3 linked regions of the Homo sapiens genome follow. The protein of the gene in region 1 binds, or shares a complex with, the protein of each later gene. Each region holds a gene or a part of one and is shown on either strand. Other genes may lie near its edges. The genes, in order: LSM7, PRPF3 and SNRPD1.

Region 1 (2,437 bases):
AGTGCTGGGGTTCCAGGCGTGAGCTGTGGCGCCCAGCGGAGAGCAGCCTTGCTGTGGGGTAGTGAGCGTGCCGTGGGGCTCCTCTCGGGCGCCTTTCCTCTTCTGCCCTTGTTAATTCCCGCTATGAACGCAGGGTCCCTGTCTCCTCCCCAGAGGACCCTCCCTCATTTCCCTGCCCCCGCTCGCTCCCCTCCCCAGTGAGGCCGCCAAGTCCTCAGACTCTCCCCCAGAAGCTCCTGCGGCAAGTCCCCAGCTGGCAAGTCCCCATCCCGGCCCGGGCACTGGGGGAATGTCAGGACTTAGGAGAGAGAGGGTCTTGCCCCTTGGATCCATTGATACTGAGACAAGATTTATTCTTGTAGCTGGCCATGGTGGCTCATGCCTGTAATCCCAGCACTTTGGGAGGCCAAGACAGGAGGATCACTCGAGCCCAGGAATTTGAGACCAGCCTGGGCAACATAGTGAGACCCTGTCTCTACAAAAAAAAAAAAAATGTAATTAGCCAGGCATGGCGGTACATGTGCCTGTGGCCCCAGCTACTCAGGAGGCTAAGGCAGGAGGATTGTTTGAGCCCAGGAGGTTGAGGCTGTGAGCTGTGATTGCACTGCTGCACTCCAACCTGAGCAACAGAGCAAGACCTGGTGTCTGAAAAAAAGTTTAAAAACCTGGGCCCCATGGTTCTCCCATGCCCCCACCACTGCAGGACCACAGTAGTGAGGAGTTTTAATCGCCTTCAGCCTCTTGAGAGCTTGTCTTGGGCTTGCTGGCACTTCCCTGGGGTGCCAGCCCACATGGTCCCCACCCCACATGAACAGCCTCTTTATTTTTTTATTTTTTGAGATGGAATCTCGCTCTGTCACCCAGGCTGGAGTGCAGTGGCGCGATCTCGGCTCACTGCAAGCTCCGCCTCCTGGGTTCACACCATTCTCCTGCCTCAGCCTCCCGAGTAGCTGGGACTCCAAGTGCCTGCCACCACGCCCGGCTAATTTTTTTGTATTTTTTAGTAGAGACGGGGTTTCACCAAGTTAGCCAGGATGGTCTCGATCTCCTGACCTCGTGATCCGCCTGCCTTGGCCTCCCAAAGTGCTGGGATTACAGGCGTGAGCCACCGCGCCCGGCCCCCAGCCTCTTTGTTATAGGGTGAATATTGGCCCCCTAGGGCTCCAGGGACCTTGCAGAGACCAGGAGGCCCAGGGTGCCTGTATTCTGGCCGGCCATCTGATAACCTGGTTCCCGGCCCTGGTGCCTGGGCCCCAGTGAGCTCTGAGACGCGGGGTAGCCGGCTATCACCTGGGCCTTCTTGTTCCCATGGTTTGTGGAGTGAGGGAGGGCTGTGGCTGCTGTCTGTGGAGCTGCCACTGGTCTCTAGGGGCCATGGGTCTCAGCCGTGGGAGCCGGGGACCTGCCCCACAGAGCGCATCCCGTCTGAGGTCCCTGCGTGCTCGTGGCGCCTGCAGGGTGCAGGTGGGGAGGTCGGAGCGAGGGTCTTGGGTGGGTGGGGGGTCTCGGAGGCTTCCTGGAGGTCCCTCAGTCCTCTCTATCTGCTCCTCCCCAGACCCTGACGACCAGTACAAGCTCACGGAGGACACCCGGCAGCTGGGCCTCGTGGTGTGCCGGGGCACGTCCGTGGTGCTAATCTGCCCGCAGGACGGCATGGAGGCCATCCCCAACCCCTTCATCCAGCAGCAGGACGCCTAGCCTGGCCGGGGGCGCGGGGGGTGCAGGGCAGGCCCGAGCAGCTCGGTTTCCCGCGGACTTGGCTGCTGCTCCCACCGCAGTACCGCCTCCTGGAACGGAAGCATTTTCCTTTTTGTATAGGTTGAATTTTTGTTTTCTTAATAAAATTGCAAACCTCAATGTGTCTGAGCCCCGAATCTTGCTTTTCCCTTGACCTTCTGAGGAAACCTGGATTCCTGGAGATTGGACTCAGTCCCTGGAGCTCATCAAATACCAGCCATGGTCCCTCCTGGGGGTGAGGGTTCAGGAGTGACCAAGGCGGGCACAGCCAAGGCCGAGACAGGCGAGTTTGGAACCTCAGTCTGATGAGGGGCTTGTGGAACCCCAGGCCCGCCCCCAAGACAGCAGGAGCTGGGGTGCATCAGGAGCCGGGATGCATCAGGAGGCTGGGGTATATCAGGAGGCCGGGGTGCATCAGGAGGCCGGGGTGCGTCAGGAGCCGGGGTGCATTAGGAGGCTGGGGTGCATTAGGAGGCTGGGTGTGTCAGGAGCTGGGTGTGTCAGGACCTGGGGTGAATCAGGAGCCGGGGTGCATCAGGAGGCTGGGGTGCATCAGGAGCCGGGGTGCATCAAGAGGCCAGACCCCACAGCCCATGCAGCTAACACCTGCCCCCGCTGCTGCCCCCGCTTGTGAGATGGACTGGTCACCTACAGCCAGCCCCTTCTGGGTTCCTTCCGTGCTCACAGCATGTCCTGAGGT
Region 2 (3,654 bases), on another chromosome or scaffold:
CAGCCTGGGTGACAGAGCGAGACTCCCTCTCAAAAAAAAAAAAAAAAAAAATAACAGGACCTTGTGTACAGTTACTTATCTCTCTTGGATTTAAAAATTTTAATTAATGAATGAGTACCATCCTTCCCACTAAAACCATAGCTTTACTAAAAGGTATTAACTTGAGTCTTAAACTCAGCTGATTAAAAACTGTTTTTTTAAAAAGGTACTAAAACAAACTCACAGATCAAAGCCATTGGGGATTATGTAAGAGTCCCACCACTCAATTTCAGGAATATCTCCTTCCTTTAGCTCCTTCTTAGGAGCAATGAGGGCAAGCCTAGTCGAAGTATGGATGCCTGTTTTTCGAGCTGCTTGTGAAATCTCTGCCTGTAGCTTCTCCAGTTGAGCCTAAAAACAAGATAATCCAAGACAGAAAGATAAATTGGAGTCATAGAAAACAGAATGTGTAGAATCTCAATTTTTTTTTTTTTTTGAGACGGAGTTTCGTTCTTCTTGCCCAGGCTGGAGTGCAATGGCATGGTCTTGGCTAACAGCAACCTCTACCTTCCAGGTTTAAGCGATTCTCCTGCCTAAGCCTCCTCAGTAGCTGGGATTACAGGCATGTGCCACCACCCTCAGCTAATTTTGTATTTTTAGTAGAGATGGGGTTTCTCCACGTTGCTCAGCCTGGTCTCAAACTCCCGACCTCAGGTGATCTGCCCGCCTCGGCCTCCCAAAGTGATGGGATTACAGGCATGAGCCACTGTGCCCGGCCAGAATCCCAAATATTTTTTTTTTTTTTTGTAGACGGAGTCTCACTCTGTCACCCAGGCTGCAGTGCAGTGCAGTGTAAGCTCCACCTCCCGGGTTCACGCCATTCTCCTGACTCAGCCTCCCGAGTAGCTGGGACTACAGGCGCCCATCACCACGCCCGGCTCATTTTTTTGTATTTTTAGTAGAGAAGTGGTTTCACCATGTTAGCCAGGATGGTCTCGATCTCCTGACCTAGTGATTCGCCCACCTCGGCCAAGAATCCCAAATTTTAAAACACTTCCCCGTTGAACTCTTTACACCTAACGCAACAAGTTCATAATTTCTGAAAGCTTAGAAAGGAGTTGTTCTGCTTTATTTTATCCTTTATTTAGTTCATATACATAGATCTCACCTTCAACCCCTCCCTGCACTCCACAGTATATGCCTGCAGTAAATACGCAGAAATAGAATTTTATGGCCGGGTGTGGTGGCTCACGCCTGTAATCCCAGCACTTTGAGAGGCCGAGGCGGGAGGATCATGAGGTCAGGAGATCGAGACCATCCTGGCTAACACGGTGAAACCCCGTCTCTACTAAAAATACAAAAAAATTAGCCGGGCGTGGTGGCGGGCGCCTATAGTCCCAGCTACTCAGCAGGCTGAGGCAGGAGAATGGCATGAACCTGGAAGGCGGAGCTTTCAGTGAGCTGAGATCGTGCCACTGCACTGCAGCCTGGGTGACAGAGCGAGACTCCGTCTCAAAAAAAAAAAAAAAAGGAATTTTATGAAAACCTCACTTTGAGAGGATAAAAAGGCGGCAAAGGTCATTCAATATACAATCAATTCAACTCTCCAGGTGTACTGTCTCATTAAATTTTAACTACAGGCAAGCCTTCCTTAGTCACTCAGAATGTTTCAAATTGTTTCCCTCCACTTAGTTGTATGTGGAGAATTTTCAAACTCAATTTCATAATATTTCCACTTATGTAGAAACGAATTAGGAAGTAAAATCTGCTAAAAAAATTATGTATTATATTAATAAATATATATATATATTTTTTGAGACGGAGTTTCGCTCTTTTGCCCATGCTGGAGTGCAGTGGTGCGATCTCAGCTCACTGCAACCTCTGCCTTCCAGTTTCAAGTGATTCTCCTGACTCAGCCTCCCAAGTAGCTAGGATTACAGGCACCCACCACCACGCTCGGTTAATTTTTGTACTTTTAGTAGAGACGGGGTTTCACCATGTTGGGCAGGCTGGTCTTGAACTCCTGACCTCGTGATCCACCCACCTCGGCCTCCCAAAGCGCTGGGATTACAGGCTTGAGCCATCTTGTCCAGCACATTTTTCAAAGTATTCATTGCTTTAAATCAGGGGTCCCCAACCCAACAGTCTTTTAGGAACTGGGCTGCACAACAGGAGGTGAGCAGCAGGCAAGCCAACAGTCTCATCTGTACTTACGATTGCTCCCTATTACCTGCATTATGGCCTGAGCTCCACCTCCTGTCAGATCATCGGTGGCATGAGATTCTCAGAGGAGCGCGAACCCTATTGTGAACTGTACATGTGAGGGGGCTATGTTGCACATTCCTTATGAGAATCTAATGCCTGATGATCTGTCACTGTCTCCCATCACACCCAAATGGGACCATTTCAGCAGGAAAACAAGCTCAAGGCTCCCAGTGATTTTATATTATGGTGAGTTATATAATTATTTCATCATATATTACAATAAAATAATAATAGAAATAGGCCAGCACAGTGGCTCACGCCTATAATCCCAGCACTTTGGGAGGTCAAGGCAGGCAGATCACAAGGTCAGGAGTTTAAGACCAGCCGGGCCAACATAGTGAAACCCTGTCTCTACTAAAAATACAAAAAATTCGTCAGGCATGGCGGCGCATGCCTGCAGTCCCAGCTACTCAGGAGGCTGAGGCAGGAGAATTGCTTGAACCCAGGAGGCAGAGGTTGCAGTGAGCTGAGACTGTACCACTGCACTCCAGCCCAGGTAACAGTGCAAGACTCCATCCCCCTCCCCGCCCAAAAAAAAAAAAGGCGGGGGCGGTGGCTCACGCCTGTAATCCCAGCACTTTGGGAGGACAAAGTGGGCAGATCACCTGAGGTCAGGAGTTCGAGACCAGCCTGACCAACACGGAGAAACCCCGTCTCCACCAAAAATACAAAATTAGCCAGGCGTGGTGGCACATGCCTGTGATCCCAGCTACTCGGGAGGCTGAGGCAGGAGAATCACTTGAACCTGGGAGGCAAAGGTTGCAGCAAGCCGAGATCGCCCCATTGCACTCCAGCCTGGGCAACAAGAGCGACACTCCATCTCGAAAAAAATAATAATAATAAAGTACACAATAAATGCTATGTGCTTGAACCATCACGAAACCATCCTTACTCCAGGGGAAAAATTATCTTCCATGAAACAAGTCCCTGGTGCCAAAAAGGTTGAGGACTGCTGCTTTAAATGACCTATTTATCTAATTTCCTAGAACACAGAGATTTAACAATGTTTTCTTGTCAGCTTCTTAACTTTTTCCAAATTCTGTGTTATACTCTAAGCCAGATACCTTTGTCCGTAATCGCTGAGCAATCTTCTCAAATTTGCCCTTGTCATGGAATTTAAAAGTGCGTCTCTGGCGCTGGGAAGGGGCAATGGAGACTCGGGGGTCAAAAAAGGTATTGGATTCCATGTCTTCTGATGGCTTTTCCTTTAGTTGTTGCTTGAATTGTTCCCTCTTCACAGCACGAATATTGGCTTTCAGAGTAGGCATGCGGTGTGTCAGCTCAATCTCCTTGCCTGTTGCATCTACAGTGCGCCCTTGCTCATCCAGGATCAGTGGTGTAGGTTTCGTTTGGTCTTTTAACTCCACCTTCCTGAAAAATAGCCCGCAAAGAAATAAATCCTGTATGGAA
Region 3 (3,654 bases), on another chromosome or scaffold:
ATGAATAAAGGGAAACCAACCTTAAAATGCCTTTTTTTAATTTCTTTTTTTTTAGTGGTATAGACAGCCATCACAAAAAAGAAATTACTTGGTCTGGGATATAACAAGCCTCAAACTTTAAGAAGACTCATGAGTTGAATCTCTTTTTATATATGACATCAAGAAAACGTTTTTCTCAACGAATTGGTAACACTTTATTTCACCAGAGAGTTATTCAGCTCCAAATTTAACAATCAATTATAACTAGAAAAGCCTAGAATTCTGAACTAATGGTTTCCTCCCATTATCAAGTTTTTGTTTTTATCTTTTACACGAATTTACTATCCCAGTTAGTAAGAACTTTTACTATAAAAGTTCTTCAAATCATTTTTGGAAGCAAAGAAGATAAATAAAAGGAAAAAAAAAACCTTATGTGGCCAGGCGCGGTGGCTCAGATACATAAAAGATACGTAAAAATAACTAAGTTGTAGAAAGCAATAAAGATATACAGAGGTTTTTTTTGTGTTTTTTTTTAAACAGAGGTTTTTAGTTTAGGTTTTTTCTGAGACTATGCCACCATGCCCGGCTAATATTTTTTAAATTTTTAAATTTTTTGTAGAGATGTGGTTTTGCCATGTTGCCTAGACTAGTCTTAAACTCCTGAGCTCAAGCAATCAGCCTGCCTTGGCCTCCCAAAGTGCTGGGATTACAAGCGTGAGCCACTGCACCCAGCTACACACAGGTTTTTTACTAAGAATATATTGTAGCATGTGGAGAGGGGAGTCAGGTATTAGGGGACTCCTAGTAAGAAGCCTGAAAAGTTGGAAATATGCAGCAAGAAGAAACAAAAGAAAAAATACAGCATAAGACACAGAGTAATTATAGATACAAAGATGGAGTCTTGTTCTGTTGCCCAGGCTGGAGTGCAATAGCGCAATCTCAATCTGAGCTCATTGCAACCTCCGTCTCCCGGGTTCAAGAGATTCTTGTGCCTCAGCCTCCCAAGTAGCTGAGACTACAGGCGCATGCCACCACACCCAGCTAATTTTTGTATTTTTAGTAGAGACGGGGTTTTACCATGTTGGCCCAAGTGATCTGCCTGCCTCGGCCTCACAAAGTGCTACGATGACAAGCATGAACCACCACGCCTGGCCGATGAAATGTTAAGTTCAATATTTTAGGTCCTATGAGTAGAGAGGAGTTAGGCAGGTTCCTTTCATGGAAAGCCTAAGCTCTGTTAAAGAATTCCTCTAGGAGAGCTACTGAAGGATTTTCATCAATGAAGTGGAGTACCAGGCTCATATTCACATTTAAAAGAGAACCTAGGGCCAATGTTCAGAAACAGATTTTAGAAAGACAAGAGACCAAAGTATAATCTCTAGGAAGACAAATTATGTGACTAGAGCAGTACATATACAAGTTAAAACTACAGTAATCGAGACATAAGGAACAACAAATAGATCAATGAAACAATACAAGCAAACAGATCTATTTCTGGTCCCACATTTACATGGTTGATTTAGCTGGGATTACAGGCACTCGCCACCACAACCAGCTAATTTTTGTATTTCTTTTTGTTTTAGTAGAGCCGGGGTTTCACCATGTTGGTCAGGCTGGTCTCGAACTCCTGACCTCAGGTGATCTGCCTGCCTTGGATTCCGAAAAGTGCTGGGATTACAGGCATGAGCCACCAAGCCTGGCCTTATATGGTTGATTTTTTACAAAGGTGCCAAAGACGTGTAACAGGCAAAGGAAAGTGTTTTCAACAAATGATGCTGGAATAACTGGAAATCCATACAGAAAAAAAACGAACCTGGACCACTAACACCATTTTCCAAAAGTAATCCAAGATGGATGATAGTCACTTGAGCCCAAGAGTTCCAGATATAGGCTGGGCACAGTGGCTCACGCCTGTAATCCCAGCACTTTGGGAGGCCAAGGCAGGCAGATCACAAGGTCAGGAGATCGAGACCAGCCTGGCCAAAGTGGTGAAATCCCATCTCTACTAAAATACAAAAAAAATAAGCCAGGCATAGTGGCACATGCCTGTAGTCCCAGCTACTCGGGAGGCTGAGGCAGGGGAATCACTTGAACCTGGGAGGTGGAGGTCGCAGTGAGCCGAGAGTGCGCCACTGCACTCCAGTCTGGCAACAGAGCAAGACTCCATCTCAAAAAAAAAAAAAAAGACTTAAAGAGTTCCAGATACATAAAAATCGATCAGTCAGGCATGGTGGCTCACGCCTGTAATCCCAGTACTTTGGGAGGCCAAGGCGGGTGGATCACAAGGTCAGGAGTTCGAGACCAGCCTGACCAACATGGTGAAACCCTGTCTCTACTAAAAATACAAAAATTAGCCAGGCGTGGTGGCAGGCGCCTGTAATCCCAGCTACTTGGGAGGCTGAGGTAGGAGAATCGCTTGAACCTGGAAGGCAGAGGTTGCAGTGAGCTGAGATCGCACAATTGTACTCCAGCCTGAGCTACAAGAAGAGAGACACTATTAAGGAAATGAACATGTAAACCACACACTGAGAGAAAACACATCTGACAAAGAACTGGTATCCAGGACACAGATCTAATTTCTACAACTCTGGGCTGGGCGCAGTGGCTCACGCCAGTAATCCCAGCACTTTGGGAGGCCAAGGCGGGCGGATCACGAGGTCAGGAGATTGAGAACATCCTGGCTAACACGGTGAAATCCCGTCTCTACTAAAAATACAAAAAATTAGCCGGGCGTGGTGGCAGGCGCCTGTAGTCCCAGCTACTCGGGAGGCTGAGGCAGGAGAATGGCGTGAACCCAGGAGGCGGAGCTTGCAGTGAACCAAGATCATGCCACTGCACTCCAGCCTGGGTGACAGAGTGAGACTCCGCCTCAAAAACAAACAAATAAGCAAAAAACCGACTAAACCCTAAGGAGATACCACTACATACCCACTAAAATGGCTAAAATTAAAGACTGAGCAAACAACACCACATACTGGTGAGGATGTGGACCAATTGTTATTCTAATATATTGTTAATGGAAGTGTAAAATGGTACAACCACTTTGGAAAATGGTCTGGAAATTTCTTAAAAAGCTAAACACATAACTATGTTACAGTCCATCAACTCCACTCGAGTATTTACCCACGAAAATTTGTTTCCCTCCAAAAACCTGAAGAATATTCAACGTAGTTGTAAACAAAATACATAACTTTTTATTTTATTTTCTTGTAATTTTTTAAAATACGGAGCTTTTTTTTTCTTTTTTCTTTTTTTTTGAGACGGAGTCTCGCTCTGTTGCCCAAGCTGGAGTGCAATGGCGTGATCTCAGCTCACTGCAATCTCCACCTCCTGGGTTCAAGGGATTCTCCTGCCTCAGCCTCCCTTGTAGCTGGGATTACAGGCACCTGCCACCATGCCCAGCTACTTTTTTGGTATTTTTAGTAGAGATGGGGTTTCACCATGTTGGTCAGGCTGGTTTCAAACTCCTGACCTCAGGTGATCTACCCGCCTCGGCCTCCCAAAGTGCTGGGATTACAGACGTGAGCCACTGCGCCCGGCCTAAAATACAGAACTTCCAAACACACAATGCACTAATATCCAGTAATAAAAATGAACACATTACTGATACACTTCACAATGTGGATGAATCTCAAAAACATGTAACTAAAAGAAGTTTTACGCAAAAATACTTTG

The links.
Region 2: LSM7 (region 1) and PRPF3 share a complex: the UniProt entries of both Homo sapiens proteins name them as parts of the precatalytic spliceosome.
Region 3: LSM7 (region 1) and SNRPD1 share a complex: the UniProt entries of both Homo sapiens proteins name them as parts of the U4/U6-U5 tri-snRNP complex.

Annotation. Positions count from the first base shown.
Region 1 is NC_000019.10:2,320,941-2,323,377, reverse strand, and holds the end of LSM7 (U6 snRNA-associated Sm-like protein LSm7), read left to right. Parts: intron 1-1,555; coding exon 1,556-1,698; 3' UTR 1,699-1,857; downstream 1,858-2,437. UniProt on the Homo sapiens protein: Plays a role in pre-mRNA splicing as component of the U4/U6-U5 tri-snRNP complex that is involved in spliceosome assembly, and as component of the precatalytic spliceosome (spliceosome B complex).
Region 2 is NC_000001.11:150,334,896-150,338,549, reverse strand, and holds part of PRPF3 (U4/U6 small nuclear ribonucleoprotein Prp3), read right to left. Parts: intron 3,616-3,654; coding exon 3,309-3,615; intron 391-3,308; coding exon 224-390; intron 1-223. UniProt on the Homo sapiens protein: Plays a role in pre-mRNA splicing as component of the U4/U6-U5 tri-snRNP complex that is involved in spliceosome assembly, and as component of the precatalytic spliceosome (spliceosome B complex).
Region 3 is NC_000018.10:21,615,200-21,618,853, reverse strand, and holds part of SNRPD1 (small nuclear ribonucleoprotein Sm D1), read right to left. Parts: intron 1-3,654. UniProt on the Homo sapiens protein: Plays a role in pre-mRNA splicing as a core component of the spliceosomal U1, U2, U4 and U5 small nuclear ribonucleoproteins (snRNPs), the building blocks of the spliceosome.